Linked DNA regions of Homo sapiens. The protein of the gene in region 1 purifies or fractionates together with the protein of each later gene. This does not show direct contact. Each region holds a gene or a part of one and is shown on either strand. Other genes may lie near its edges.

What was found.
Region 2: the proteins of LOXL4 (region 1) and THSD4 purify together in Homo sapiens (affinity purification with mass spectrometry; one large-scale study listed by BioGRID and IntAct). This does not show direct contact.
Region 3: the proteins of LOXL4 (region 1) and NEDD1 purify together in Homo sapiens (affinity purification with mass spectrometry; one large-scale study listed by BioGRID and IntAct). This does not show direct contact.
Region 4: the proteins of LOXL4 (region 1) and PUM1 purify together in Homo sapiens (affinity purification with mass spectrometry; one large-scale study listed by BioGRID and IntAct). This does not show direct contact.
Region 5: the proteins of LOXL4 (region 1) and DNAJB4 purify together in Homo sapiens (affinity purification with mass spectrometry; one large-scale study listed by BioGRID and IntAct). This does not show direct contact.
Region 6: the proteins of LOXL4 (region 1) and SAV1 purify together in Homo sapiens (affinity purification with mass spectrometry; one large-scale study listed by BioGRID and IntAct). This does not show direct contact.
Region 7: the proteins of LOXL4 (region 1) and CAD purify together in Homo sapiens (affinity purification with mass spectrometry; one large-scale study listed by BioGRID and IntAct). This does not show direct contact.

What each region holds. Positions count from the first base shown.
Region 1 is NC_000010.11:98,246,762-98,251,646, reverse strand, and holds the end of LOXL4 (lysyl oxidase homolog 4 precursor), read left to right. Parts: coding exon 1-81; intron 82-470; coding exon 471-582; intron 583-2,655; coding exon 2,656-2,726; 3' UTR 2,727-3,957; downstream 3,958-4,885. UniProt on the Homo sapiens protein: Catalyzes the oxidative deamination of lysine and hydroxylysine residues in collagen and elastin, resulting in the formation of covalent cross-linkages, and the stabilization of collagen and elastin fibers.
Region 2 is NC_000015.10:71,744,971-71,748,470, reverse strand, and holds part of THSD4 (thrombospondin type-1 domain-containing protein 4 isoform 1 precursor), read right to left. Parts: intron 3,366-3,500; coding exon 3,236-3,365; intron 1,634-3,235; coding exon 1,429-1,633; intron 51-1,428; coding exon 1-50. UniProt on the Homo sapiens protein: Promotes FBN1 matrix assembly.
Region 3 is NC_000012.12:96,910,257-96,914,636, forward strand, and holds part of NEDD1 (protein NEDD1), read left to right. Parts: intron 1-2,466; coding exon 2,467-2,561; intron 2,562-4,380. UniProt on the Homo sapiens protein: Required for mitosis progression. Promotes the nucleation of microtubules from the spindle.
Region 4 is NC_000001.11:30,950,352-30,954,731, forward strand, and holds part of PUM1 (pumilio homolog 1), read right to left. Parts: intron 3,631-4,380; coding exon 3,363-3,630; intron 2,013-3,362; coding exon 1,883-2,012; intron 1-1,882. UniProt on the Homo sapiens protein: Sequence-specific RNA-binding protein that acts as a post-transcriptional repressor by binding the 3'-UTR of mRNA targets.
Region 5 is NC_000001.11:78,011,439-78,014,938, forward strand, and holds part of DNAJB4 (dnaJ homolog subfamily B member 4), read left to right. Parts: intron 1-1,612; coding exon 1,613-2,181; intron 2,182-3,500. UniProt on the Homo sapiens protein: Probable chaperone. Stimulates ATP hydrolysis and the folding of unfolded proteins mediated by HSPA1A/B (in vitro).
Region 6 is NC_000014.9:50,657,816-50,662,195, forward strand, and holds part of SAV1 (protein salvador homolog 1), read right to left. Parts: intron 1-4,380. UniProt on the Homo sapiens protein: Regulator of STK3/MST2 and STK4/MST1 in the Hippo signaling pathway which plays a pivotal role in organ size control and tumor suppression by restricting proliferation and promoting apoptosis.
Region 7 is NC_000002.12:27,226,930-27,231,309, reverse strand, and holds part of CAD (multifunctional protein CAD), read right to left. Parts: coding exon 4,348-4,380; intron 1-4,347. UniProt on the Homo sapiens protein: Multifunctional protein that encodes the first 3 enzymatic activities of the de novo pyrimidine pathway: carbamoylphosphate synthetase (CPSase; EC 6.3.5.5), aspartate transcarbamylase (ATCase; EC 2.1.3.2) and dihydroorotase (DHOase; EC 3.5.2.3).

The DNA.
Region 1 (4,885 bases):
TGCTGGGACACCTACCGGCATGACATTGATTGCCAGTGGGTGGATATCACAGATGTGGGCCCCGGGAATTATATCTTCCAGGTAAGGCGGCTGGGGGATTCCCCACAGAGCCTGATTTCCTCCAGATGTTCCACAACTTTCCCTGAGGGCAAATGAAGGGAAGAATTTCCCATACAGGGTTTCCGACAGGCCTGTCACTTAAAGGAGCTGTCCTGTTAGGGAAGTAACAGTCAAGCTGGGTCCAATGAACCTGTGTTTGAGTATTGATTCAGTGAACACTGGATAAATCAGTTTCTCAGTTGGGACTTCTCAGTCCCTATCTGTAAAATGGGAACATCAGTACCTACCTCCTGGGTAATTGTTAAGAATTAATGAAGCAAATAGAAACACATGTAAGGATTATCACAGCCACAGTCAACTCATTCAGAAACCAAATCACCCATTTTCAGTTGTCCCCTCTTTCACTCTAGGTGATTGTGAACCCCCACTATGAAGTGGCAGAGTCAGATTTCTCCAACAATATGCTGCAGTGCCGCTGCAAGTATGATGGGCACCGGGTCTGGCTGCACAACTGCCACACAGGTAACTCCGAGCCACTGTGGAATCAGCCATCTATAGGCTCAGGGAGCTGGAACACTGTAAATGTACCCTCTGCTCCCACACTCCAGCGTGTGACTTGTATGTGTGTGGTGTGCAAAAGGCTATGGATGGAACAGAGATGCATTTCCTTTGACATCTTACAAGGCAGACTTCTAGAACTGGTCAGACCATCGGCTTCACCCAATAACTACATCTTCTACATCCCTGTTTGCACTTAAGGCTGTTTGATTGTAAACTCAGTTTCCAATCTGTTCTAGAATCTTTCCTGTCACCTCAAGCCATGTCAGGATTTTCAAGTCCATTATTTTTCCTTTCTCTTTCATATAGAAGTTAGGGTTAGGGTCCTCACAGGCAAAAGTAGTCCTCTTGCTCTGTGTTGCTGTCTCCAGCTGTGATCACTGCTTGCAAGAAGGGGACCATGGAAAACAGAGCCACTTACAGGATTGGTAGCATCAGTCAAAGGAAGCATCATGATCCAGTGGGGGCAGAGAAGAGGGGCTGTTCTGTCAGTAAAGACTCCCTCTATCTTCAAGGGTTAAAAATGCCCATATTTGCTATGGGATATGCATTCACTCATACTTGCATATGTGCGGTGGGATGGGGCAGAGTTGTTCATTTAGTCAACAAACATTTACTAAGGCTCACTATTGTGTTGAACGCTGTGCCCCAGAAACTGGGAATGTAAGTGTCAGATAGGGTATGCACACATGCAAATAGCCCCAATACTACTAATGTGTGGACTGAATGCTGAGCAAGCACAGACAGAAAGCAACCTGTTGGGGGCTAGCACAAGCTTCACAGAAGTAGTATTTGATCTGAGGTTTGAAGGAGGAGCCAAAGTCAAACATGGGAGGAGTAGAGAAAGAGCACAGGACTGGGCTTTGGAAGGCGTCACCCGAATCCAGTCCCACCACTTTCTAGCTGGAGGACAGTGAGGAAATCACGACCTGAGTTTTCTGTTTTGTAAAATGGGGCTGTATACTTCAAACTTACTAAGTACTAGAGCTTTTTGCAGGGAGGGTTGTGATAGTTCTAAGATAATGGATTTTATCCCGTGGGCTTCTGGGAACTATTGACAAATTTCAGTCAAGGAGGCAAAAGATCATTTAGGTTTTCAAAAAATAACTGTGGCAACAGATGGACGAAAATGAGAAGAGGAAGAACAGTCTAAGGTTTCGAATTTGTGTGGCTGAGTAGATTGTGCTGCCACTTAAATGAAACAGGGATATTGAGAGGAACCAGGAACTGGAATCCAAGGCTACGCACACGGAGACAGCAGATCCTCCATAATGCTAGAATCAGGCTGCAAGGGTTCCCAGGCAGTGACAAGGGCAAGAAAAATAATGCAGTCCTGCAGGTCCTCTTGCCAGTGTTTAGGATCCAACAGGGCTAAACAGAAGTGTGCGGAAAACAGAAGGCACACTCGGGTGAGAGTCTGAGTTTATTTAATTAAAGGACTATTTATAAGAAAACAAGGAGTGTTGAGACATCAAGCATAAAGAAAGTAGAAAACCGTTATCTGCTTTAGGCTTGAAGAGGGGCAAGGGCTGCTTTGCAGCCAGGTGCAAGCCAGAGTTGTGAAGGAGGGTGAACCTAGCTGGAACAGGAGTCACAGACCATCACTGCCAGAACCACAGGGCCAAAGTAGGGGAAGGAATATCCGGCCTCTCTCCTTCCACCCTCTGACCTTCTGCTGTTGCTTTCCATTGACCCAACTCAAACAAACAAAAAAAGAGGACAAAGGAGCCAGAGTGATGTAATCGCTAGGCATCAGCTTCCTAGGGCACAGAGGGAAAAAAGGGCAGAGAATGAACCTGGGGAGGGGGGCAAAGGAGAATAACTAGCACAACTCTTTCCAATCAATAGCCTGTTCTTCCTGATGTTCCTGAAACCACACACCTGTCCCAGGCCTATTTCTATAAAATGATTGGTGTCTGTGCCCATGCCATGACTTGATATAAAGGATGAGCTGGGCAGAGTGGATCTATGTAAGTTGTCAGGGAAGGGATGAGACTGGAAAGGTTGGCTACTTACCTGTTTTCCTTTGGCCCACAGGGAATTCATACCCAGCCAATGCAGAACTCTCCCTGGAGCAGGAACAGCGTCTCAGGAACAACCTCATCTGAAGCTGTCACTGCACACTCCTAGCTGCTGCCGATACACCAGATACCTCAGCTTATTGGAGCCATGCCCTTCACAGAGTCCCAACTCAGAGGAAAAGGGCCAGTGCCAAGGGGCACCAAGAACCTGCTCAGGAAGCCTTTTGATGGCAAGATCACCAATCCAGATGGTATTGCTCCCTCAGGATGGCTCTGGGCCTGCCCCTAAGGGCCTGTGGCCTATGGAATATGTCCTCCAGGCTTTGCTCAGCTGAGCTCCTCTTCTGTAAGGAAACCCAGTCATCCCTGAATCTTGCCACAGAGATCCGGGATTCAGGAGCTCTCAGTTTCTTAGGGATGGACTATGGCCCAGTCCCCCATCTAAGTGGTGCTTTGCAAATGTCTTGGAGGAGTATAGGACAGAGGACCAAAATACACAGCAGGTAGTGTTAGCTCTCTGCTAGGAGCTCAAAGCAACACAACTTGTATCAAAATCACAACTGGCAGAGAAGCTGGTGGATCCAATCCTTTCTTCATCTGTTGTTATTTAGAACTCACCTCTCACACTCTGTTCTTTAGTGTCCTTACCTTTATCTTACCACACACATGGGTGTTTCTATTATCCTTGGAAGCACAGACCTCGGGCATCCCCTTATTGCCTGATGGGCCAACACCAACAGTTACGGAGTGCTTGAGAAGGGGCAAGTTTCACAGAAATGGCCAGATAGGGCCTTCCTACAGAGCAGCAAGAGTAGGCCAAGCAGAAAGACTGCTGAGGTAACACGGACCCCAGCCCCTGTCAGGGCCTCTGCCAAGGAAATAATATGGACCATTTACCTGGCAGGCAGTCTGCTCTCTCTCAGGATCACCACGCATCTCAGGATTGGTCTAAACTTCAAGTCTCAACCAAGTGTCTGAAGTGAACTTTGCATTGAATAAATTTTTGCCATGGAAAGAACATCAAACAAGCCACTCATCTCTACAGAGATAAGAAAACAAGTTTGGCAGAGCAAGAGACAGAAGACCGTGGAGAAATCAGAAGGGGGAACAGTCAGTTTAGTTAAGGATGGAACCTGGGAAAGGCCACCATTCCTGCTTGATGGGGCTCTGATTTGCTCTTGCTCAAGTGGAATAAAACCCCATGGTCTTCTTGACATGATTCTTGATCTTTTCTCCACTGAGACACACTTAAGTGATGATCCTTACAGGACTGACACCCTAATGCCAATAAAAGTTGCTCATTATGGACTGCTACAAAGACCAGACCAGCTGTGATTATGTACACACCCCAGAACCACAGACCTACCCTTTTGCCTCCCATGGAGCCAGGGCCTGGGATACACAGGGCACACATGCTTCTCATGACTGCCCATCTACATTTCTCCAATCAGACATAAGTCTGCTTCCCAGTCAGCCTCCCCAGGCTTAGAGCTGAAACACGGGTTAGAAAGGTTAAGGGGTAAAGGATAGGGGCAAGAAGGTAAAGTCTGAGGATTGCAAACTTTTATAATCAAGGCTGCGAAGCCAAAATAAATGGTAGCAGATGGAGCAGATTTACAACAGCACTACCCCCACCACATCACAAGAGCCACCACATCACAAGAGCTACCCCCTCCTTAGGGAGTAAAAAGGGACATGTTCCGGGGAACCCTCTGTGAATACAAAGAAGTGCTTTCTTCCTTATCCCCGACCTTCCCTCTCCTCAACTCCCTCATCTCCTTCATTAGGCAGAGGGAGCATTATATTTTGGCATGGCAGTTTAGGTAAACAAGGGAAGGACTGATTTCCTGTTGGATCCAGCAAACATCCCCCAAACAGTAACAACATTATGCTCACACATGCAGCTAATGGTCTGTGAAAGAATGTGCAGCTAGCAGGGGAGCATGTGGTGACTGATGACTAGATTCAAGCAGGGAGGTTACCCACAGCTGCTTGCTGGATCCAGTTTCTAAGAGGGACCAAAAAAACAGGCCAGGCAGCCAGCCACCGGCTCTGGTCTCAGCCTTGCTGCCCACATTACACGTTTGATAGGTGCAGCCAGTTCTAATTCTTGGAAAAGGCCATACAAGGGTTGTGCTGTTACAACTCTGAGCTGAAAGGGAAGGACATGGGAAGACTGGTGGCTGGCATGACTTATAACTAGATGAGGAATGTTAACAGAATACCAACCACCAAATTCCAGGTAG
Region 2 (3,500 bases), on another chromosome or scaffold:
ACACACTTCACATCACGGGTCCTCTGTCCCACGCCGCAGGGCACCGAGCACTGAAACACAGCACACTGACGTCAGGGGAACCAGCAGCTTCAGCTCTGGGAGAGAATTGCCAGTATGGAGCCCGCAGCCTTTGTGATCAGCCCCATGAGACTGAGGCTCTGTCATGCATGTCACCAGCTGGGGCAGGGATCTGAGCCCTAGAAAACTCCACAACCCTTTTCTACAAGACCTTCTTAGATGCCTCGCCTACTGTAAACTAAAAATAAAATCCTAAGCCTCCCAGCTGACTGAATGGGCCTCCTCTTGGCCAAGGAGACCCCCAGAGAAACCTTAAAAATGGATTTCCTGGCCATGACAGGATGGAAGGTTGGACACACCCTGTCATACCACCTCCGTTTTGCAGTCTAGACACAACCGACCAGCACTGATGTTAAGGGAGAAATCATAAGACTGACAGAATGGACTCTCTGTGGCAATAAGATACCAAATTATAAACAGGACCCAACGCCATGGCAGGCAAGGGGTTAAGTCATGCACCTCTGCCCTTGAAGAATAAACTATGTTCTAAGTTGCCTGGGAAGAAGGTCTTAGGATTCATGGCTTACATCCTGTTTAGAGTAAAGAATATTATTGTCAGTTCCTCAAATCTTATTGTGAATTCTTCAAACTGTTGACATACTGATTAATACGTAACCTGTGGACATTGAAGAGGACACTGGTTTGTTTGGTTTGTTTCTGAGTCATAAAGTTTTGCTGATTTATTTCTGACTCATGAAGTTTTATTGACTGTCTTGCACTTAAAACATTTTAGCCTGTATGTCGTCATCTGTAGCCAGTGATTGCAACCTCTGTGCTGTACCCTCCAATGAAAAAGACAACTCCGATTCAAGGGGTCCCCGTCTCCTCTCCTAAACTTTCTTCTAAAAGCCTTTCAACTTGTAACAGACTTTGGAACATGTCCAACGTTGTTCGTGTGTCTTCTTGGGCTGATCCTTACATTGGCTTCCAATAAATCTTTTATCAAATTATTTCTGCCTTAACAGCCTTAATTTTGACTGACACTACTCTATTCTTCCAGGCCTCAGTCTTTTCAGCTATAAAATGGGTAGGGAAAATTGGAAGGAGTTGGCTCTACCAGCAGTTGCCAACCTTCACTTCACCATGACTCACAAAGCAGATGAGGCCAGTATCAGAGGGCTCCCCCTGGGCTCACTCATAAAGTTGGCTGTGGGTGGCACACACTACCCTGAACTCTATTGAACTATTGGTACATCCTGTGGTTTGCAAAAACAGCCGTCCAGACCCCCACGGGACGGGTTCCCTCCTGTGGAACTCAGGGTTACCCATCTCAGGTCTTGGTGGGGGAGGCTGGAAAGTGTGGTGGGAGCTGGAGAGGGAGCTGCAGAGCGGGCTGCCCTGCCTGCGTACCGAGGTCCAGTCGGTCCGGATCTGCCACTCGCTGCAGATCTTGAGTTGGCAGGTGCTGGTGGTCTCAGGTTTCTCCAGGTGCTGGCAGCGGTAGGGCTGCACCGTCAGGCTGCGGTTGGCGTACACCTGGCGGCACAGAACCTGGCGGTGCTGCATGCCCAGGCCACAGGTCTTGCTGCACTCAGACCACTCCCCGATGTCCCAGCTGGTTCAGGAATGAGAGAGCGAGAGTGAGAGACAACCTTCAGTCAACAGGAAGTCAGCGTGAGCCCGCAGCAGCGTACACAGAATCATCAGAATCACTATGGGTAGAGTTTCTTACTAGAGCATTGCTTGAAAGTCAGCCTAGGCTGGGCACAGTGGCGCACGCCTGTAATCCCAGCACTTTGGGAAGCTGAGGTGGGAGGATGGCTTGAGCCCAGGAGTTCGAGACCAGCCTGGGCAACATGGCAAAACCCCGTCTCTACAAAAAATACCAAAGTTAGCTGGGTGTGGTGGTGTGTGCCTGTAGTCCCAGCTACTCGGGAGGCTGAGGTCAGGGGATGGCTTGAGCCTGGGAGATTGAGGCTGCAGTGAGCCATGATTGTGCCACTGCACTCCAGCCTGGGCAATGGAGTAGGACCCTGTCTCAAAAAAAGAAAAGAAAAAGAAAAAGAAAAAGTCTGCCTAAGGGTCATCTGACTCTGTAAAGGCAGATAAATTTGCCTGACACTTGACATGCTATTTACCAGTGATTAGGGCCCAGATTCTATGAAAAGTTATAGAAAACTGAAAACGTACAAATGATTTTTATCTAATTAAAAAAAAAACCTCCAAAGGTTAGTTTTATTACACTGTAGATCATTAACTCATTTTTGCTACTAACTTAGGAATCTTATTCTAGCATTATTTTTCATTAACAATTCCCGTATCAGTTTTGCAAACCCTCCTCTGTCATCTGCTCTGTTATTAGTTAAATGAGACATCAGCCCATGCTCACCATATACTTGGATGAGAATTATATTTTTATTACTCTGCAAATTAGGTTTTGACCCTTTTAGGGCCCTTTCCCCTTGTTCTTCTTCAAGTGTCCCATTTATCATTCAATAACCAGTTCAAGGCCAGGCGCAGTGGCTCACGCCCGTAATCCCAGCACTTTGGGAGGCTGAGGTGGGCAGACCATTAGTGCTCAGGAGTTCAAGACCAGCCTGGCCAACATGGCAAAACCCTGTCCCTACAAAAAATACAAAAATTAGCCAGGCGTGGTAATGTGCACCTGTAGTCCCAGCTACTCGGGAGGCTGATGCAGGAGAATTGCTTGAATCCAGGAGGCGGAGTTTGCTGAGATCGTGCCACTGCAATCTGGCCTGGGCAACAGAGCTAGACTCTGCCATAAAAACAAAAACAAAACCAAAAAACCGAAACAGTTCAAGACCTCTCCCGAGACACTTTTCTTGGCCTCTCCAGGCTGATGTTTTTGTGACTTGCATTATCCTCTCTCTGTGAACAGCTCACCTACGACACCAACTACACTGGCTTCTCGTTTTTTGCTTCCTCCTTTGTTTTCCTTACCAGGCTCAAACCTAATTGCTCCAGCTTTGTCAAGGGTGGGCTTCCCAGAAGTGGGTTGACTTGCTAAAGGCTATCAGCTCCTGAGTTCATCCTGAAAGACAGGTGTGCCTGCTAAACAGACTGCATTTTATGCATGGTCCAAGTCTTGTATTTCTAACTCAGATTTAGACTGACTTATATCTGTTCCTAAGGTCCTGTGCATAAGTGACCTGAAGTGACCCGGTAATAGGCGACCTAAATGGAGGGGCCTTCTTACAAGGCTGGGCAAGGGAAGATGTTGCAGGGCTCCTCCTCGGGGGTCGGCTTCATGCTGGAGTCACAGTAACTCTCAGGAGCCTCTTCATGAGTGCTTCTGTGCACACAGCGGAAAATAGGGTACTGCGATCCTGCAACAACAGGAGAATGTCTGAAGGACAGTCCCACACACTGGAAAGCTGGGCTATGGGTGGAGATGCACAGAGATTCGGGTGCTGATGAAGAGAGGGCACAGAAACAGTGAGGACAATTCACACATGCATGCA
Region 3 (4,380 bases), on another chromosome or scaffold:
GTTTTTGCATCTACATTTGGGTATTTGTGGATCTGAACTGAAAATTAAAGACAGAACTTGAAGGCAGAAGCAAGTTGGGGAGGAGATAAAAAATTGCCCAATATCTCCATCTTACTAATGTACTCTCCATATCTTCCTTCCTCTCTGTGTGTGTGATGAAAATTACATTTCCTAAACAGACATAGTAAAGTTACCTAGATTGAACTTTTCTAAGCTTTTTATGTTTCTGATTGACACCTTCCCTGTCTTGGTGAGCTCCTCAATGTGGATAAAATAAAATGAGGGAGTGAAGACTGTAAACTAGGGTTTCTGAACCCTGTGCTATTGACTTTTTGGGGCAGAAAATTTGTTGTGGACCTTTCCTGTATGTTGTACCACGTGGAGGTTTATTGGTCTTCACCCGTTAGGTACCAATAGCCTCTAGTTGTGACAACCCAAAACGTTTCCAGAATTGCCTGAATCACTCCCAGTAGAGAACCACTGCTGTGACCACAGTGCTCCTATCACCTTTTATGTGAAAATGTTTTATGTAATTGGTATGTTAGAAATTTTCTTTTGTGAAACTCATACGCTATTTCTTAACAAATTAAGATTTAACATTTATCTGATTTTTATCAACACCAAAGTATTCTACTTTCTGATAAAAAAATCAAAGCTTTAAAATGTGACTGGTTCAGGAACAAAAATATTAAAAGTTTTATATGACTTACTATTCTTGCATGTATATAACAAGAAGGACAAATTTTCTTACTGAATTAAATTTACCTCCTTATCATTCCTTGATTTTGCAGTAAAACAAATTACTTTGGTACTCTGTTAATCAAACTCATGGTGAAGTGACTACATTTTTGAAGGACTTTCCAGATGTGTAATAGGGAAAATATTTTAAAGAGAGCGACAAGTATATGAAGTTGCTGTTCTCTATTTTTAGATTTTCATTATGTTTAGAGCTTAATTTTCCCTCTTACTATATAAGAGAAAGGTAGCAATTTGTAGTAAGATTATTTTTTGGTTGACTTTTGTTTTAAGTTTTACTAGGAGTTGGCATTTACTGATGTGCTACTTAATAGTCTAACAACAAAACTGATGTAGCTATGAGATAGTGTTGTATGACTTTTGGAAATTGGTCTTACAGTTTTCTTGCATGAGCAGATGTGCACTGAAAGCCTTCATACAGTCTTATTCTTAATAAGGCTTTGATCACTTCCATGGAGGTTAATTACTGAAGAACAAGGAGTTCCCAGCCTTAGCAACTTGGGGTCCACATAGTATAGATTCCAAGAATGGGGTTAATGTGAGACACCAGAGAGATTAGTTTTTTGTTTCTTGTCCTTTAACTTACGTTCCTCACTTTCTCATGATTTCTAAAACTACAAGAGAAATAAAAAAGAACTAGATTACCCACCCACATTATGTTTCAGTCCTTTTTTTTCTATATTCTAAGGAGAAAAGTAGTGGTAAACAGGAAGAAGTCAAGGAAAGGGAAATGGTTTTTCTCGCTATGGTAATATCTAGGTAGGAATGATTTGATTTGCATCATGTATCATAATAAAATTACAGTCTATGCTCTGTTTACAAAATACCTGAAAGTTATACAGAACATTCAAAAGTTAATGCAGTTAGGGATTCTGAGTGTCTAATTAACCTTTCTCCATTGCTTTTACTCACAGATTTTAATTGCTAAAAAGCACAGATTTAAACTTCTGATATTTTAATTTGTTATGGCTCTCAAAATCAGACTCTTATTCTTAGTTATATTATTGTATTTAATCATTTTAGTTTTAAAATAGTTACTGTTTTGTGTTTACTGATTGTTCCATTTACAATTCGTGTAAAAGAAGGTAAATAAAATTACATTTTATTTAAAAATTAAAACTCATAACACAATTCCTATTTAACCATACATATTTATAAAATATTTGCAAGTTACTGTAATAGTCATTCTTAATTTAAGATTGAAACATTCTATCACAAAAATTCATGTTCTGGGAAAATATCAGGCCTTTTTTTTTTTTAAATAGAAAAATAGGAGACTAGTGTGGATGTTTGCTTCCTAGTTTAGATTGTTACCAAGCACTAGGTTAATAAATATCTTGAACAGTTTCTGTAGATGAAAAGGTTGATTGATATTTGCTGATGCTGCTTTTATCATGCTCTCATTCTTGAAGGATAAAATTAGCCCTTCTGGCCTACTCTTTGAAAACAGAGTAGTATTTCACGTGGGTTAAATAGCTTTTGAGTGATAGCAGAGCCAGAAAGAAGGCTAGTTCTTCCCTGCAGTAGTAGCAAAGAGAATTAGTCTTAGTAATTATTAATAGTAATGTGAGCCATTTTTGAAAGCTACTCTGTAAGCTATACTCATTGCTTGTCTTCTTAGTGTGTTAGCTTTTATAATCGCAATTCTTATAATAGTCTAGTGCTATAGATGTTCATGGATTGTTTGATGCTCCATAACTCCTCATTTAGATAACTTTTTAGTAACAGCATCTTCCAGTGGCGACAAAATAGTTGTCTCAAGTTGCAAATGTAAACCTGTTCCACTTTTAGAGCTTGCTGAAGGGGTAAGTGATTTTTTTTTTTTTTAAACTTTTAAAAATCTTAGTTTTGCTTGACTGGCAATTGCTTATTGTGGTGCTTGCGACTAAATATAAAGGTTTTTAAAAGCATTATTTTTAACTTAAGCTCAAAATAATATAGTAACACTTAAAAATGAGATATGTGTACTTACTAAAGTATTTTTAGGTAAAATAGTTTTGAATATAGGGGAACAATTGAAGACTTGAATTTTGTTGACTAGGCACTTCATTTCTCCATTTTCCCTCAGTGGGAGAGGATCTCTGTTGCTGCTATTTTAGGACGATATCCCACATAGGTTACTAGGTTGACCTGAGCATATAAACTCTAATGACACAGCACTGCTTTACTGATCTTGGGCTCAGGACCATCAGGAACAGACTCACAGCTGATGGTAGCTCTCTGCTTCAGATTCTGTCCACCTGTACTGAGGGGCCTGTCTGAGCCTCCCCCATACTCTCCTTAAACAGGTTGGCTTTGTCAAAATGAGCTTAGGTCCCAGGGCGTTTAAATGAAGCTCTCACTACGTACTGTTGCCTTATCCTTTTTTTTTTTTCTTTTGAGATGGAGTCTCGCTCTGTTGCCCAGGCTGGAGTGCAATGGTGCAATCTTAGCTCACTGCAACCTCCGCCTCCCCAGTTCAAGCGATTCTCCTGCCTCAGCCTCTCAAGTGGCAGGGATTACAGGTGCCCACCACCACGCCTGGCTAATTTTTGTATTTTTAGTAGAGACGGGGTTTCACCATGTTGGCCAGGCTGGTCTTGAACTCCTGACCTCATGATCCGCCCGCCTCAGCCTCCCAAAGTGCTGGGATTACAGGCATGAGCCACCACACCCAGCCTATCCTTTTGTTTTATAAGTTAATCCCTCTGATTAAGGATAATACTGGCTTCTTCATTTCTAGTCACACACTCTTTGAAAGCTATTTCTTTTTTAAATAAGATAAGATTTAAATAAAAAGATATGGTAGTTGATAGCTTTTTTTTTTAATTTCAAAGTTTTTCTAGCAGATCTTAAATTATTATGAATTGTCATAATTTTACACACTGGGATAGGTAAAGTAGCCCAATTAGAAAGAAAACAGCAGGACAACTGAATAAAAGCTCAACTAATTTAAAGAGGACTCATGATTTTTATCAATCCTCTCCTAAAGGTATCCAGTGGGATTGACCTGAACTTCAGTTCTAACCCACAGATGTTGGAGACTGGGACAGAGGGAACATGTGCTAACAGTAGAAATGGAGTTTGAGGCACTCTGTTTAACCTGACTTAAGCAGAATCAAGGCATAGAATGTCTCTGGTCGATAAAGGCAGACTGAAGTCTTCAAGAGCAGGCAAAACATCTTAACCATCTTTGGATCTTTGTATCCTAAGATGTTCAAAAAACTTGTTAATGTCAACATCAAAACAATTTCAACTTCTACTCTACCACTATATATATGTACTACTGTTATGCATTATGCCTTAGGATCAGTGAATCAGTATTTGGGAGCTTTTTTTTTAAAGTATAAAAATAACAGATGGTATTTACAAGTGTGACATAATTCTAAGAGTTTTGTGAATATTCCAAATTAGTTGCTATGATTCTTAGCCCTCTTTCCCATAGTTAACAAATTGTATCATAATGCTGTTGGATAAAAGTAAGATTAGTTGAGTTCAAATTTTCAATCTATTTTAATTTAGTTATGAAAATATTTGGAAACATTGGTTTTTTAGCTTTTACTAGTAATGTTTACAGAAACATATTAATGTGCTAATAACCTTTTTGTAACTTCCAAGTCCTCTTACTCGTGTATTATTTGAGGC
Region 4 (4,380 bases), on another chromosome or scaffold:
GGCATAACCTCTTTTAGCCCTGATACCCATGATTAACTAAACCTTTTATTTAAAGAGCCATTGCTTCTTCAAGCCAGTAGTTCTCGATCTCTTAATTATGAGTAACCCTTTTTAATGTTAAGAAGTTTCTCGGATACCCAACAATAGGTAGTTTCACTATTAATATCTGCTAAGCAAACACATAATTCCTCAAAGCTGTCATTAATTCATACTATTAAATGAATCTGGCCAGGTGCAGTGGCTCACACCGGTAAACCCAGCACTTTGGGAGGCCAAGGAGGGTGGATCACCTGAGGTCAGGAGTTTGAGACCAGCCTCGCCAACATGGCAAAATCCTGCCTCTACTAAAAACACAAAAATTGGCTGGGCATGGTGGCACGCTCCTGTTAACTCCAGCTACTCCGGAGGCTGAGGCAGGAGAATCGCTTGAACCCAGGCGGCAGAGGTTACAGTGAGCTGAGATAGCACCACTACACTCCAGCCTGCCCAATGGAGCAAGACTGTGTGTCAAAAAAAAGAATCCTACACTCTTACTGCCAAAGCACACATGGACACACTGTTTTGAAATAGTATTCTACATCATTAAGAGAATTGATTTTTTTTTCTCCTATTTACACAAGGTAACAGAGTTGGGAGGGGAAAAATCAGTAGAATCAAGAAGTGAGGCTACACAATGTTAAAATTCTACTTAGAATGATTTTCCATCCTTGGCTTATTATTTTCATTTCAATCACATAATCGTGAGATTGGAGGAGACTTTATGAATTCTCAGCCCATCCAACCTCCTCATTCTCCCAAGGGAAACTAAGATCCAGAGAAGTTCTCAAGCTTGGTCCAAATCATATGGCTATAATCCATTGTACATTTTGTCACCCCAAGGTGCATCAGCCTCCAGAACTAGAAAGCTCAGTATTTTTATATATGTGACAAAACGGCAGTGCAAAGTCATTCTAAAATCAAAAATACAAAAGTCATGTTTAGATTGGTTTCTTAGTCCAAAGCTGAAGAATTCAGGGTGAAAAAACATAAGTCTTCATGAAAAAACTTGGGAAGGTAAAACTTGAGTACGTCAGTTTTTCATCTTCATACAAATCAAACAGGATGAGATGTTAAGACATTTACAAATTTGTTTTGTGGTAGGTAATGTGCAGAATTCCAGCATTTTCCTCCCCATACCAGACTCCTCCTCATCTCGAAGTTTTGTGCCATTCTGCATCTACACCTTAGGGTTGCCAATACCAGATAATAAGGGCTACAATGGTAAGCAAAAAAGTCCCTGCCTCTCTGAAATTTTACCTCACTAGAGGGAAAAGACATCAACCTAACAATCTCATTCTTTCCAAAGACAATGATACAACAAGTGAACATTATTCAAATTAACAGAAGTAAAACAAGAAATCAAGGCCAAACGATCAGCCAAGAAGCAGCATTTAACAATTCTTGTGACCCTAGCTGATAATGAAACATACTGGAGTCGGTGTCCAAAGACAATTCTCTAAGAACCTTAGAAAAATTTGTTTTTGGCAATATTTTATTGTGATCCTGCTAAAACTACTTTACAAGGATTATTTCCTCCTTAAGTGACACGTTTTGTGAAACTATTATAACAATCTGAAATAATGTGCTGGGTCCTAAATGGGGACACCAGTTTTCGAAACACATTTCCAAAATAGATTGGCATTATCTGCTCGGATATTTAAACCATACAGAATAGATAGACTGCTGCTAATGAATTGGAAAAACACTAAAAACCTCTTCAAAAAGACCACACACCCTTCATTCTGAGGACTGGAATGGGACTGCTATGCTTAAAAAGGCTAATGAAAATCAAAATGCTCTGCAGATTCTCTTAAGTCAAAGGATAGAAAGAACAAAGGCTTACTTCAAAGAACTTCTGAATGACGTAATTACCAAACACATCCACCATGAGTTGGTAGGCAGCCTGGAGGATTTCATTGAAGACAAGCTGGCGCTCAGCTGGTGTGGCACGCTCCAGTTTCAGCTGAATGAATCTGAAGTACAAAGTAAAAAGGGCAATCACAGCACTGAAGGAAGACCTGGAGATACATCAGTGTACCTCGGTTTATAGACTGCATCCGTTCTGAAACATGTGAGTGAGCATGTGTGCACACACATGCACACAATAAACCAAACTTTATTTGAATGAATCACTTGAACTCCCTTGAAGAGTTTTTAAATAGAGGAAGAAGGTCCTAACTTAATTGAGCTTTGAAAATTACATATAAATGTTGGCACATTTCATTCCAGTAGGGCATGCATACTGAATCTTATTTATGTGCAAGGTGGGAGGGAAGATGAAAGCGGGGGGGGCGGGGGGGGGGCGGGAGGGGCAGGGGTGCAGGAAGAGAGGAGGGGTGGAGGGAGACATAACACAACATGTACCCTACTTGACTTTTTTCCTTTAGAAACCAGCCTCACATCAATGAACTCAAAGCTTACAGTCCTTACTATATTCTTTAACTTATTTTCATATAAAACAGTACTCATCAGCTACTCGGGAGGCTGAAGCAGGAGAATGGCGTGAACCCGGGAGGCAGAGCTTGCAATGAGCCAAGATTGCGCCACTGCACTCCAGCCTGGGCGACAGAGCAAGACTCTGTCTCAAAAAAACAAAACAAAACAAAACAAAACAAAAAAACAAAAACAAAACAGTATTCATTATCTTCTGAAGTAGTAACAGTCTGCCTTTTTTTAGTCCAAATGACCACTATCAGGAAAATCATGTTGCCTCTGAATCTAGCCTATAGAATTCAAATATGAGAAATTTTGGCCCAGTAGCAAGCTGGCAGAACTTAAGGAGGAGGTAGCTTCTGTAGAAACTGTTTCACTGGACACAGTATCAGAGAAAGAAACAGAAACAGAAATGGGAAAGAAGGATGGGTGTTGTCACCATAATTATGCTCTATCCCCAGGACCAGATTCGCTTTCTGTGAAGCCCACTGCAGCAGCCCAACAGGAAGGGGTAAACCAAACCAAATTCTGTCTTCTATAATAGTTTCTTCTCTCGTCTCTACATAGACTGTCACTTCTACAGAGTGGAACAACAAAGAAAGGTGGTAGAGCTGTCTTACTCCTCAGCACCCTAGATCAAACTTGTATTTGAATAGCAACTCTTTGAGAGCAAAAGATTCTTCATAATGCTTAAAGCAGCCGAAGTGTATGTATGTCTTTGTGTTCATGTTTGTTTCTTAAATCCCTATGAAATAATGTGATGCAAACTAAGAGGCACGCTTTTAAAAAATTACTATATGGCAATTTATTTAAGTAGATACCCATCTGAGCCAAGACAGTTAAGGCATTACAATTTCGGGTACCTTAAAGTGCCAAAGCCAAGTACTCACCTGGACCCATGCTGGTCTTGGGAAAATTCCATTATATGTCCAGCAATCTCCCGCAGTTGTAAATTGGGGTACCGGTTGTTTCGAAAATCTTCCAAAAGCCTGCTCCTGCCAGAAGGCATGACATCAGACATTCCATATCGCAAACGAGAGGAAGAGAAAAGAGTGCTGCTCGGGCTGAAGAGGCTGGAGGCGCTGCTTGCACTGCGGTACTTGGCTTCAGCGCCTGGAGCAGCAGAGATGTATCTTCCACTGCCATTCGTGAGTCCTCCTGTTGGTTACAGAACAGGATAACTTAAGACCACTCTTCAGCAACTTCATTCAAGAGAGAAAAAAGCATTCCCACACCCGAAAGCCTGCACCATTTCTGATTTCTTCAATGCTGTTGTTTTTGTGTCAAGACAATTCTATTAGCGTCATGACTTTCGTGGGTCAACTCAACAACCTGGAAGGAAACTTTTGCACAAAGATTGAGAAGGGAATGCTTTTACCGTTGATGGTAGACTGCTAGTAAGGCTGGAGCAACAGTTAGCATGGCCCCTAGTAAATGAAATGAGGAAGAAATGTGCCGACCAGGTGAACCTAGCACCTGAGCACCAGCAATAAAAACTCAGAAAATGCAAAACAAACTCAGACTGGAGTGGTTTTCCATTCTGAGATCTGCGGAGATTCCTTTCATTCTTGAATAACCCCCATTTCCATCTGAAACCCACTCTAAAAAATCAGGCATCCAGATTGGTCTGTTTTATACAGGGGATCCCATGAAAAAGCTGTCTTTGAAGGAATGATTTTGCCACTAAATAGAAGTGTGAAAATCGCTAAGACATTCCAGGCCATGGATGAGACATAATGAGTACAAGACAGGAGATGCCTTAAAAATGAAAAATTTTCGAGTTTTCATTACAAATGGACAGCTCTTAACAATTTCTATTGTGACACAGCCTGAAATGACTGTAGTTCCAACAACCTTCATGCCACTGATAATGCTGTTTTGATGGGTGACAAGGGAATAATTGTGAAT
Region 5 (3,500 bases), on another chromosome or scaffold:
TTATTAGAATTTTTTTCACTCTCTGACACAGAGTTCTATTTTAATTCTTTTTTTTTTTTTTTTGAGATGGAGTTTTGCTCCTGTTGCCCAGGCCGGAGTGCAATGGTGCAGTCTTGGCTCACTGTAACCTCTGCCTCCCAGGTTCAAGCGATTCTCCTGCCTCAGCCTCCCAAGTAGCTGGGATTATAGGCATGTGCCACCATGCCCAGCTAATTTTGTATTTATAGTAGAGACGGGGTTTCACCATGTAGACCAGGCTGGTCTCGAACTCCTGATCTCAAGTGATCCACCCGACTCGGCCTCCCAAAGTGCTGGGATTACAGGTGTGAGCCACTGCACCTGGCCCTATTTTAATTCCTAAACAGTAAAAGATGATCTGAAATAAAACTAGTTAGAATGAATATGGTATTTTTATTACATTATATTTTTACATATTTCTATTTTATTTATATATAAACAGTATGAATATGGTATTTTATATTTTGCTATATATTTTATTAATATATTTATATTTTTAAATGTTATATATATTGTTTGATTGTAATAAAAATTAAAGATTTAAGTTCTGCACTTTGTGTTGATTGCTGAAGACCTTCCAACTGACATCTTTTAAAAACTTATATATTTATAAGTAGATACTTATATAATTTATATACTTCAGCATGCCAGATCAGTAGTTTATAAGGAGTTCCCAGTTTTATTTTCTTTTTCTTTTCTTTTCTTTTTTTTTTTTTTTTTTTTTGAGACAGAGTCTCACACTGTTGCCCGGGCTGGTGTGCAGTGGTGCGATCTCAGCTCGCTGCAACTTCTGCCTCCCAGGTTCAAGTGATTCTCCTGCCTCAGCCTCCTGAGTAGCTAGTATTACAGGCACCTGCCACCACACCTGGCTAATTTTTTGTATTTTTAGTGGAGGCGGGGTTTCACTGTGTTGGCCAGGCTGGTCTCAAACTCCTGACCTCATGATCTGCTTGCCTCGGCCTCCCAAAGTGTTGGGATTACAGGCATGAGCCTCTGCGCCCGGCCTTATTTTATTTTTCTTACTTACCCGTGGAACAAAGAATCAGGAATAAATATTAGAGATGCTGATTTGGCCGGAAGCAGTGGCTCACACTTGTAATTTCAGCACTTTGGGAGGCCAAGGCAGGCAGATCACCTGAGGTTGGGAGTTCGAGACCAGCCTGACCAACATGAAGAAACCTCGTCTCTACTAAAAATACAAAATTAGCCGGGCGTGGTGGCACATGCCTGTAATCCCAGCTACTCGGGAGGCTGAGGCAGGAGAATTGTTTGAACCTGGGAGGCGGAGGTTGCGGTGAGCCAAGATTGCGCCATTGCACTCCAGCCTGGGCAAACAAGAGCGAAACTCTGTCTCAAAAACACAAACAAACAAAAATGCTGATTTGGAGGAAGAATTTGAAAACTTAACAATTTAACTTAGGATGTAATCATCAAGAGTTTTATAGCTGTTCTGTATTTAGTAAAGTGGCATTTCTGGCCAATATTAATACATTTTAATGTAAGTTAGCCAAAATTTATTAGCAATACAGTTTTTGAAAGTTTAACTTTTAAGAGTTGCAAGCTTTTTTCTAATCATGCTTATCTCTTCAATTAGGGTTGAAAGGAGGAGCAGGAGGTACTGATGGACAAGGAGGTACCTTCCGGTACACCTTTCATGGCGATCCTCATGCTACATTTGCTGCATTTTTCGGAGGGTCCAACCCCTTTGAAATTTTCTTTGGAAGACGAATGGGTGGTGGTAGAGATTCTGAAGAAATGGAAATAGATGGTGATCCTTTTAGTGCCTTTGGTTTCAGCATGAATGGATATCCAAGAGACAGGAATTCTGTGGGGCCATCCCGCCTCAAACAAGATCCTCCAGTTATTCATGAACTTAGAGTATCACTTGAAGAGATATATAGTGGTTGTACCAAACGGATGAAGATTTCTCGAAAAAGGCTAAACGCTGATGGAAGGAGTTACAGATCTGAGGACAAAATTCTTACCATTGAGATTAAAAAAGGGTGGAAAGAAGGCACCAAAATTACTTTTCCAAGAGAAGGAGATGAAACACCAAATAGTATTCCAGCAGACATTGTTTTTATCATTAAAGACAAAGATCATCCAAAATTTAAAAGGGATGGATCAAATATAATTTATACTGCTAAAATTAGTTTACGAGAGGTAAGTTGGTAGGACCTAAAATCCTAAGACCAAATAATTATGTAGTTGATCATAGGGAGTGTATCTAGATAATAGCTAACATTTATTTAATGCCTATTATACGTTAAAAATAATTACTATAAAAATCCTCTAAGATAGTACTAGTATTATACCTCTTTTATGGATGTGATTATATTTTCTAACTTTAGTTACTTATAATTAAAGTGTCAAGTGTTAACTGGATTATGTACTATGAGGCTGCTTTTACAAATGTGGTTTATGAGATCTGCATTGGTAATCTCAACACATTAGTCTTTGTATATAGGGTTTGTTCTAAATTTGTTAATATGGAGTAATAATTGCATACCAAAAAAGATTAGAAGAAAATAATTTATAATTCACTACAAATTTGTATACATTTATATTAATAAAAAATACATTTATAAGTGCATATAAATATATACATTTATAAATTATAATGCTACTATGTTAATACAATTATTATTTGAGTTCTTATTTGCACTATTTCTTTTTTTTTTTTGAGACAGAGTCTTGCTCTGTCACCCACAGCGCAATCTCGGCTCACTGCAACCTCTGCCTCCGGGTTCAAGTGATTCTCTTGCCTCGGCCTCCTAAGTAGCTGGGATTACAGGCGCCCCCCACCACACCTGGCTAATTTTTGTATTTTTAGTAGACACAGGGTTTTACCATGTTGGCCAGGCTGGTCTTGAATTCCTGACCTCAGGTGATCCACTTGCCTTGGCCTCCCAAAGTGCTAGGATTACAGGCATGAGCCACCACGCCTGGCCTATTTGTACTATTTCTCAAATTGGATTGTAACTTTGCAAATATGGTCATAGCAGTTCCCTGCTTCAAATTCTTAAATTGCTCTATATAACCTCTACCATAAAGTCCAAACTCTTTAGCTTAAAATAAGTCATTTTAAATCTGATGTCTACCCATAAAATGTATATGCACTTCCCCAAGTTTGCTCTATTATTATTATTATTATTTTTTTGAGATGGAGTCTCGCTCTGTCACCCATGCTGGAGTGCAGTGGCACAATCTCAGCTAGTACTGCAGCCTCCACCTCCCAGGTTCAAGTAATTCTCCTGCCTCAGGTTCCTGAGTAGCTGGGATTACAGGTGCCCGCCACCATGCCCAGCTGATTTTCATATTTTTAGTAGCGATAGGTTTTCACCATGTTGGCCAGGCTCGTCTTGAACTCTTGACCTCAAGTAATCCGCCCACCTCGGCCTCCCAAAGTGCTGGGACTATAGGCATGAGCCACCGCACCTGGCCCAGTTTGCTCTATTATTATCTTGTATACTTGAGCTGTA
Region 6 (4,380 bases), on another chromosome or scaffold:
GTCGAAGACACAGATAAAGTATTATTTTCTCTCTCAGCTATCAGTAGATGTGCCAAAAAACTTAATCTCATACAACCAGGCAGATATTTATGAGATCTACCATTATGAATAAGACTCAAATAGGCCGGTTTCCAAATTTTGTAGTGGCTACAGAGAATAAAATGGATCTAGAGCTCTAACACAGTTCCACAGGGTCCCTAGTAATGGATGCTACACATTATTAGCATGTGTTATAATCAAGATGTTGATAAAAAGATCTAAGTATTAAACTCAACCAAATGCTTTCTCTCTTCCTCTGCAAAATAAATACAGAAAAGGTGGTGTCTCTAAAGATTATCAACCCCTCCTCAAAAGATTCTGGTTACACAAATATTTACACATTACCCGAGTAACTGCAAATCCAGTATTTCTTGATAAAGCTCACACTTTTCAGTCTGATTTTTGTATCCTGATTTCTTTAGTCATCTTTAAACGTTTAAAAATGTTTTCGAGACAGAACTAAAATTTAAGCGCAAAACAAAGGAATTCAGTCTGCCTTTAGTATTCCAACTAAAGACTTCCTGTTAACAGCAGGATTCCTTTCTTTGGAACATACAGTAAGTGCGTGACTGGTATGCGGCCAAGAACATTAAAGGTCAAATTTTCTAATCTGAAAGTTCTACAGCTAAACGTAGAACTTTCTAGGCTCTAAAACTTTCTGAGATTATACAACTTGTTTTTGTGCTTCTACTAAATACAATAAGCTGAATTTAACCCTTGACACAAGGTGTTTCCTGAAAATCTAATAACTAATTGACAGGAATTACTATTGCCATTAAGTCATTACAAAACAAATTTTCCAACCTTTTTATGCTTATGACAATCAAAATTCAATGTTTCTGAAAATAGATCTATCGCACAAACCTATCCTATCCTCCTACAAACTTACTTTCTCCTTTCTATTCATTCAAATTCCTTGAACCTTATTCAGCATAAATCCTAAAAATATGTTTTAAGTCTTCTCAAGGTGAATTCAAGAAACTTTCAGCTACTGTCTCATATTCAGATTTTTCCCTTGTGGAAGAGGCAGTTATTAGGCTTTTCTGTTTGGCATGTAATTGGTTATTAATCTTTCCCTGCAACTTTAGAGATTCCTTCAAAAAAAGTACTACTTTTTTCTACAAGGTAAAACATTAAATCTATATTGCCCTGATAAAAATTAATCTTATCAAATGAAGTCTCTCAAGCTCTCAAGCAGTGTATCAACTGCTGTAAAGAATTTTTTTTTTTTTTTTTTTTTGGTTGGGAGAGATACCTTATTACCTGAGATTCTTCAACTACCTGCAACCTTCTTTAAACCTAACGCAATCTGATATAAAAGAGCCTGGGATGAGACTTCGAAGGCAGAAGTCTACTGTCTCATTAAAACAAGGTCTTGGCTATTCCATGAAATCAAATCTTATTTCAGTGCATGTGTGTTCCAATAAAACTACTGTATTGCAGGAGGCAAGTCTATCTGGCCTATGGGTGTAGCTTGCTGACTCCTGCTGAAGCCTCCCTCATAAAATTAAAAACACCCTCAAGATTAAAATTACGGTAGGGGCCCGAATTTTGATAAAATATTTTCCTTCTCTTTTTCCACCTCCATGTATGACTGCTTGCAAAGTCATTTCAACAAATGGCAGTCACTAATAATTGTCTTCCTGTGGCAGCCCCTGGGCAGGCTGCCCATAAGATTAACAAACCTGTTTCTTTTAAAGAACAATAATCCAGACTGGGTGCTGCGGCACATGCCTGTAATCCCAGCACTTTGGGAGGCCAAGGCAGGCAGATTGCTTGAGCTTGGGAGTTTGACCAGCCTGGGCAACACTGAAATTCAGTCTCTACTAAAAATACAAAAAATTAGCCAGGTGTGGTGGTGCATGCCTGTAGTCCCAGCTACTCAGGAGGCTGAGGTGGGAGGATTGCTTGAGCCCGAGGTCGAGGCTGCAGTGAGCTGTGATCATGCTACTGCACTACAGCCCGGGCAACAGAGCAAGATCCTGTCTCAAAAAAGAAAATAGAAGAGAAGAACAAGAAAACAATGATCCTAGATCACACAGACCCCCTTGATAGTTTCCAGAATTTGGACTGGCCAAACAGGCCAGGCCACTTTGATCACTGGTGATCTCACCTCCTGCAAACTCTTCTGCTAAGCTATAGGTTTAAACAGTAACCTGCCATTTTTTCCCAGCTTTCTTTCCATAGTAACTGGCAGTCACAAACACTACTGTAAAACCTAAGACTGGTCTTCGAGATATTTTTCAGACTTTGCTTACAAGTGGACCAACTGACACCAAATGGACCAGTGTTCCATGAACTCAACCAAGGAACTGACTTGGTCTTGTGACTCCCCAATTTCCCAGCAACTGATTCAGCACATGAAGACAGCATTGATAACCCTATGATCTCATACCAGTCCAATCACCAGCACCCATCCCCTAGCCCCCTGCCTGCCAAATCATCTTTAAATATCTTAGCTTCTCCAGTCTTGGCGGTGATGACTCTGAGAAACATTTCCCATCCTCCTTACTCAGCTGCCTTGCAATAATTAAACTCTTTCTTCTTTACAGTATCTGCTGTCTCAGTGTTCTGCTCTATTCGGATAGCAGACAAGAGCCCAGTCAGGTGGTAACATTGTTTTATAGCATTTTTTGGATACATAATTATTTGCACATGTTTATGGGGTACATGTGATATTGTGATACATGCAAAGAGTATGAAATAATCAAGTCAGGGTATTTAGGGTATCCATCACCGTGAGTATTTATCATTTCTATGTGTTGGGAACATTTCAAGTCCTCTCTTTTAGCTATTTCAAAATGTTAACTGTAGTTACCCTACTCTGCTATCAAACCTTAGAACTTATTCCATCTAACTTTATGTTTGGACCCATTAACCTACCTCTCTTTACCTCCCCTCCCATCCTTCCCAACCTCTGCTATCATTCTATCTCCATGAAATCAATGTGTTTCGCTCCCACATGTGAGTAAGAACATGAGACACTTCTCTTTCTGTGCCTGATTTCCCTTAATATAATGACCTCCAGTTCCATTCAAGCTGCTGCAAATGACATGATAAACATGGGAGTGCAGGTATTTCTTTGATATACTGATTTCTTTTCCTTTAGATAGATACCCAGCAGTGGAACTGCCGGATCATATGGTAGTTCTGTTTTCGGTTTTCTGAGAAATTTCCAAACTGTTTTTCATAGTGCCTGTCCTAATTATTGTAACATTCCCACCAACAGTCTGTAACAGTTGCCTTTTCTTCACACTCTCACCAGTAGTATATTTTTTTGTCTTTTTAACAATAGCCATTCTGACTGGGGTAAGACACCTCACTGTGGTTTTCACTTACATTTCCTTGACGATTAGTGATGTTGCACATTTTTTCACATACCTTTTGGCCATTTGTATGTCTTCTTTTGAGAAACGTCTATTCATGTCCTTTGCCCACTTTTTAATGGGGTTGTTTTTCTTACTGTTGGCTTCCTTGCATATTCTGGATATTAGTCCCTTGCTGGATGAATCTTTTGCAAACACTTTCTCCTATTCAATATGTTGTCTCTTCATTCTGTTGTTTCCTTTACTGTGCAGACGCCTTTTGGTTTAATATAGTCCCATATGTCTATTTGTTTTTGTTGCCTGTGCTTTTGAGGTCTTAGCCATAAAATCTTTGTTAGATCGATGTCCTGAAGTGTTTCCCCTACATTTTCTTCTAGTACTTTTATAATTTCAGGTCTTAAGTCTTTAATCCATCTCAAGTTGAATTTGCATATGGTGAGACAAGGGTCAGATTTCATTCTTCTGCATGTGGATATCCAATTTTCCCAGCATCGTTTATTGAAGAAAGTGTCCTTTTCCCAATGCACGTTCTTGGTGCTTTTGTAAAAAAATCAGTTGGCTGTAAATATGTGGATTTATTTCTGCATTACCTATTTTTGTTCCATTGGTCTATGTGTCTTTCTATACCAATACCATATTATTGTGGTTACTATAGCCTTATTTGTGGTTACTATAACCTTGTATGTGGTTACTATAGCCTTATTTCGAAGACAGGTAGTGTGATGCTTCTAGCTTTGTTCGGTTTGCTCAGGATTACTTTGGGTATTTGGGCTCCTTGTTGGTTCTGTGGAAATTTTAGGATTGTTTTATTTCTGTGAAAAATGACTGGTATTTTAATAGGGATTGCATTCAATCTGTAGATTACTTTGAGCAACATGGTCATTTTAATGATGTTAATTCTTCTGACCCATGAGCATGGGATGTCTTTCCATTTGTTTTTGTGCTCTTCAATTTCTTTCATCAGTGTTTTGAAATCTTGTTATTTATTTATTTATTTATTTATTTTGAGACGGAG
Region 7 (4,380 bases), on another chromosome or scaffold:
TAATGGCCGGGCGCAGTGGCTCACGCCTGTAATCCCAGCACTTTGGGAGGCTGAGGCGGAAGGATCACGAGGTCAGGAGATCGAGACCATCCTGGCTAACATGGTGAAACCCCGTCTCTACTAAAAATACAAAAAAATTAGCCGGGAGTGGTGGCGGGCGCCTGTAGCCCCAGCTACTCCAGAGGCTGAGGCAGGAAAATGGCGTGAACCCGGGAGGTGGAGCTTGCAGTGAGCAGCGATCACACCATTGCACTCCAGCCCGGGGAACAAAGCGAGACTCCGTCTCAAACAAAACAAAACAAACAAACAAACAAAAAGAAATCTTAACTTATAGCTCTTTTCCCTGCTATTTTCATGGATAAGCTCAGGCTTTGTGCTTATTGATGAATATGGAATCAATATGCCTAAAACGGGCATGGGGATACTGGAATATATCCCCATACACTGGATACTGGAAGTTTATCACAGTGGCCCAAACCACTGATGGCTGTCCAGTTATTGGGTTTGATTTATTCACATAATCATAACACCAACTGGAATTCTTTAAAACTTTTTAAAAAAGTGTAGATAATAGGAAGATGATCCTTACTACTCATCCATGCAGAGCAAATCACATTTACAACAATCATTTTAGAGTTTCTCTTTCTGGACTTTTCTTCATAGGTTCATAGGTTTTTTTTTTTTAGATGGACTTTCGCTCTTGTTGCCCAGGCTGGAATGCAATGGCACGGTCTCGACTCACTGCAACCTCTGCTTCCTGGGTTCAAGAGATTCTCCTGCCTCAGCCTCCTGAGTAGCTGTGATTACAGGTGCGTGTCACCATGTCTGGCTAATTAGAGACGGGATTTCACCATGTTGGCCAAGCTGGTCTCAAACTCCTGACCCCGTGATCCACCCGCCTCGGCCTCCCAAAGTGCTGGGGTTACAGGCGTGAGCCACCGTGCCGGGCCCTTCATAGGTATGTTTTACATATCATCACAGCATACATATAATTTCCATCCTGTGTTTTTTCCTCATCATACATTTTCCCACATTGCCACATGGCCTCATCAACACCAACTTAATTCTTTCTTGAGACGGAGTTTCTCTCATCACCCACGCTGGACTGCAATGGCATGATCTCAGCTCAGTGTAACCTGTGCCTCCTGGGTTCAAGTGATTCTCCTGCCTCAGCCTCCCAAGTAGCTGGGATTACAGGCACCTGCCACCATGCCTGGGTAATTTTTGTATTTTTAGTAGAGACGGGGTTTCACCATGTTGGCCAGGCTGGTCTCGAACTCCCAACCTCAGGTGATCCACCTGCCTCGGCCTCCCAAAGTGCTGGGATTACAGGCGTGTGCCACTGCGCCCAACCAACTAACTTAATTCTTGTATGATCTGCCATAATTTAACTACTAACTGAAGGACATTTAGCTTTTTTTTTTTTTTTTTTTCTGAGACGTAGTCTCACTGTGTTGCCCAGGCTGGAGTCAGTGGTGCAATCTCAGCTCACTGCAACCTCTGCTTCCTGAGGTCAAGCGATTCTCCTGCCTCAGCCTCCTGAGTAGCTGGGACTACAGGTGCGTGCCACCATGCCTAGCTAATTTTTGTATATTTTCTAGAGATGGGGTTTCACCATATTGGCCAGGCTAGTCTCAAACTCCTGACCTCATGATATGCCCACCTCACCCTCCCAATGTGCTGGGATTACAGGCATGAGCCACCGCGCCCGGCCCATTTCGCTTTTAAGTGTTTACAATTAGGCAGTCCTGGTGGCTCTCACCTGTAATCCAACACTTTGGAAGGCTGAGGCAGAAGGATCACCTAAGGCAGATTGAGACCAGCCGGCACAACATAGTGAGACCTCCCTCTCTACAAATAATAATTAAAAAAAAAAATTAGCAAGGTGTGGTGGTGTACACCTGTAGTCTCACTCCTCAGAAGGATGGGGTGGGAGATTACTTAAGCCTAGAAGATCCAAGCTGCAGTGAGCTAAGTCACACCATTGCACTCCACCCTGGGTGACAGAATAAAACTCCGTATTAAAAAAAAAAGTTTTCATAATTATAAGTTAGGCTGTGATGTTTTCTTTCTTTTTTAACGAGACAGGGTCGGCCGGGCATGGTGACTCATGCCTGTAATCCCAGCACTTTGGGAGGCCGAGGCAGGCGGATCACGAGGTTAAGAGATCGAGACCATCCTAAGCAGTATGATGAAACCCCCGTCTCTACTAAAAATACAAAAATTAGCTGGGCGTGGTTGTGCGCGCCTGTAGTCCCAGCTACTCAGGAGGCTGAGGCAGGTGAATCGCTTGAACCTGGGAGGCAGAGGTTGCAGTGAGCCGAGATAGCACCACTGCACTCCAGCCTGGCGACAGAGGAAGACTCTGCCTCAAAAAAAAAAAAAAAGAAAAAAAAAAAAGAAAAGAAAAAAGAGACAGGGTCTCGGCCAGGCACAGTGGCCTGTAATCCCAGCACTTTGGGAGGCCAAAGGTGGGTGGATCACCTGAGCACGGGCGTTCAAGACCAGCCTGACCAACAGGGAGAAACCCTGTCTCTATTAAAATACAAAATTAGCCAGGCGTGATGGCACATGCCTGTAATCCCAGTTACTCTGGAGGCTGAGACAGGAGAATCACTTGAACCCAGGAGGCAGAGATTGTGGTGAGCCGAGATCACACCATTGCACTCCAGCCTGGGCAACAAGAATGAAAATCCGTCTCAAACAAACAAACAAACAAAAAAGACAGGGTCTTAGCCTGGCACCCAGACTGGAATGCAGTGGTACAATCACAGCTCACTGCAACCTTGAACTCGTGGGCTCAAGCGATCCTCCCACCTGAGCTTTCCAAAGTGCTGGGATTAATTACAACCACCGTGCCTGGACTGGATATGATGTTTTCTGTTTTGGATAATCTCCTTAGGATAAATTTCCAGATATGTAGAGGCAATAGGTAACACAAATTTTATAGCCCTTGATGAGTACGAATAACTTTATAGAAGTCTGTGCTTCATAATACAAAGTTTAAGCAACCTTCTAAGAAGTGGGCATAAACAGAGTCTCATTTAACTAGATTTCTATTTACTAATGAGAGGAACCGTCTTTTCTCTAGGTTTGCTTATTGATTTCTTCTTCTGTAAAGTGTTGTTCATCTCCTCTGACTATTTACTCTAGGGGCTTAAGTATTTCTTACCAAGTGTATTTTTCTATTTACAATCCTAACATTTACATTTCTTTAAAAAAGTTTTAAAAACACTACGATGTTAACAGTAGTGTGACTGATTTTGTTCAATTTCTTTGTAACTGTGGTTGTAAGACTTTTTATTTTGAGATTTGTTAAAAAAGGAGAAGCCTAATACATGCATACACATATGCCTAGAAATGTATGCAGTCGTAGATACACGGCTGAATTATGCAGTCGCAGATACACGGTCGAATTAATCAATCTCTGTAAGGCAAGATTACAGGTGACTACTGTTCTTTGGTTAAACTATCTTTCCTCGTTTTCCATGATTCATGTTTCTTACTTGTATAATAAAAGTTACAAAAAGTTACCAAAGAAGACCACATTCCAAGAATACTTGAACAGATGTAAAACAATTAAATGTCTCATCTAGGAACCAATCTTTCATTGGCCTATTTTCAATCCACTTCTTTTTGCCACAATTTAATTATGGCTTCATTCCCATGTTTATTCTAATTTTCATATAACAGAGATTCATCTCCAGAAGGAAAAAATTGGCAGTCTTGCAGAATTTCTAAAAATTCTGAAATAATATCTGAGCTTAGACTTACTTGTTTAAAGGCCACTACTGCTCTAAATGGAAATCTGGAGCACCACAAAATGCTCTTATCCATCAGGCTGGTGGCGCTGTGTCTGGTACACGTATATTTTTGTTTTGGTTGAAATGTGTTAGAGGACGGTCTTCGGCAACTAAAGGGATACCACAAAGAAACATACTAACTCAATTCTAACATGCTCTGCCACTGCTGGGTAACGTTACGGCCATTCATCATTCACTAATAAATTTCCTTGTTACCAAAAAGGTTTATGATGCCCTGCTCTGATGTAAACATCATACTAAAAAAAAAGGTCATTTAGTGACCAAAGCACAAAGTGCCAGAGGAGGAGATACTGCAAAAATGAGATGAGATAGTCTGATGGCTTGCACCTATCCCAGAGATTCTGTATTCCAACACAGATTTCCAGATGCCTCCCCAACTCCTGACAAGGACTATAATCTTAGTTTGAAATGTCTCAAGCACCTGCTCCCATAGGACGTAAAAGGCCATGCCAGGGAACTCTTGACATTTAAGATTCTTGGTCATGGTGGGGCCCCATGGGGGTGCCCAGGGCATGAGTCTCACCAACGCTCTTCATGCAGCTCCCAATCTTTGTGC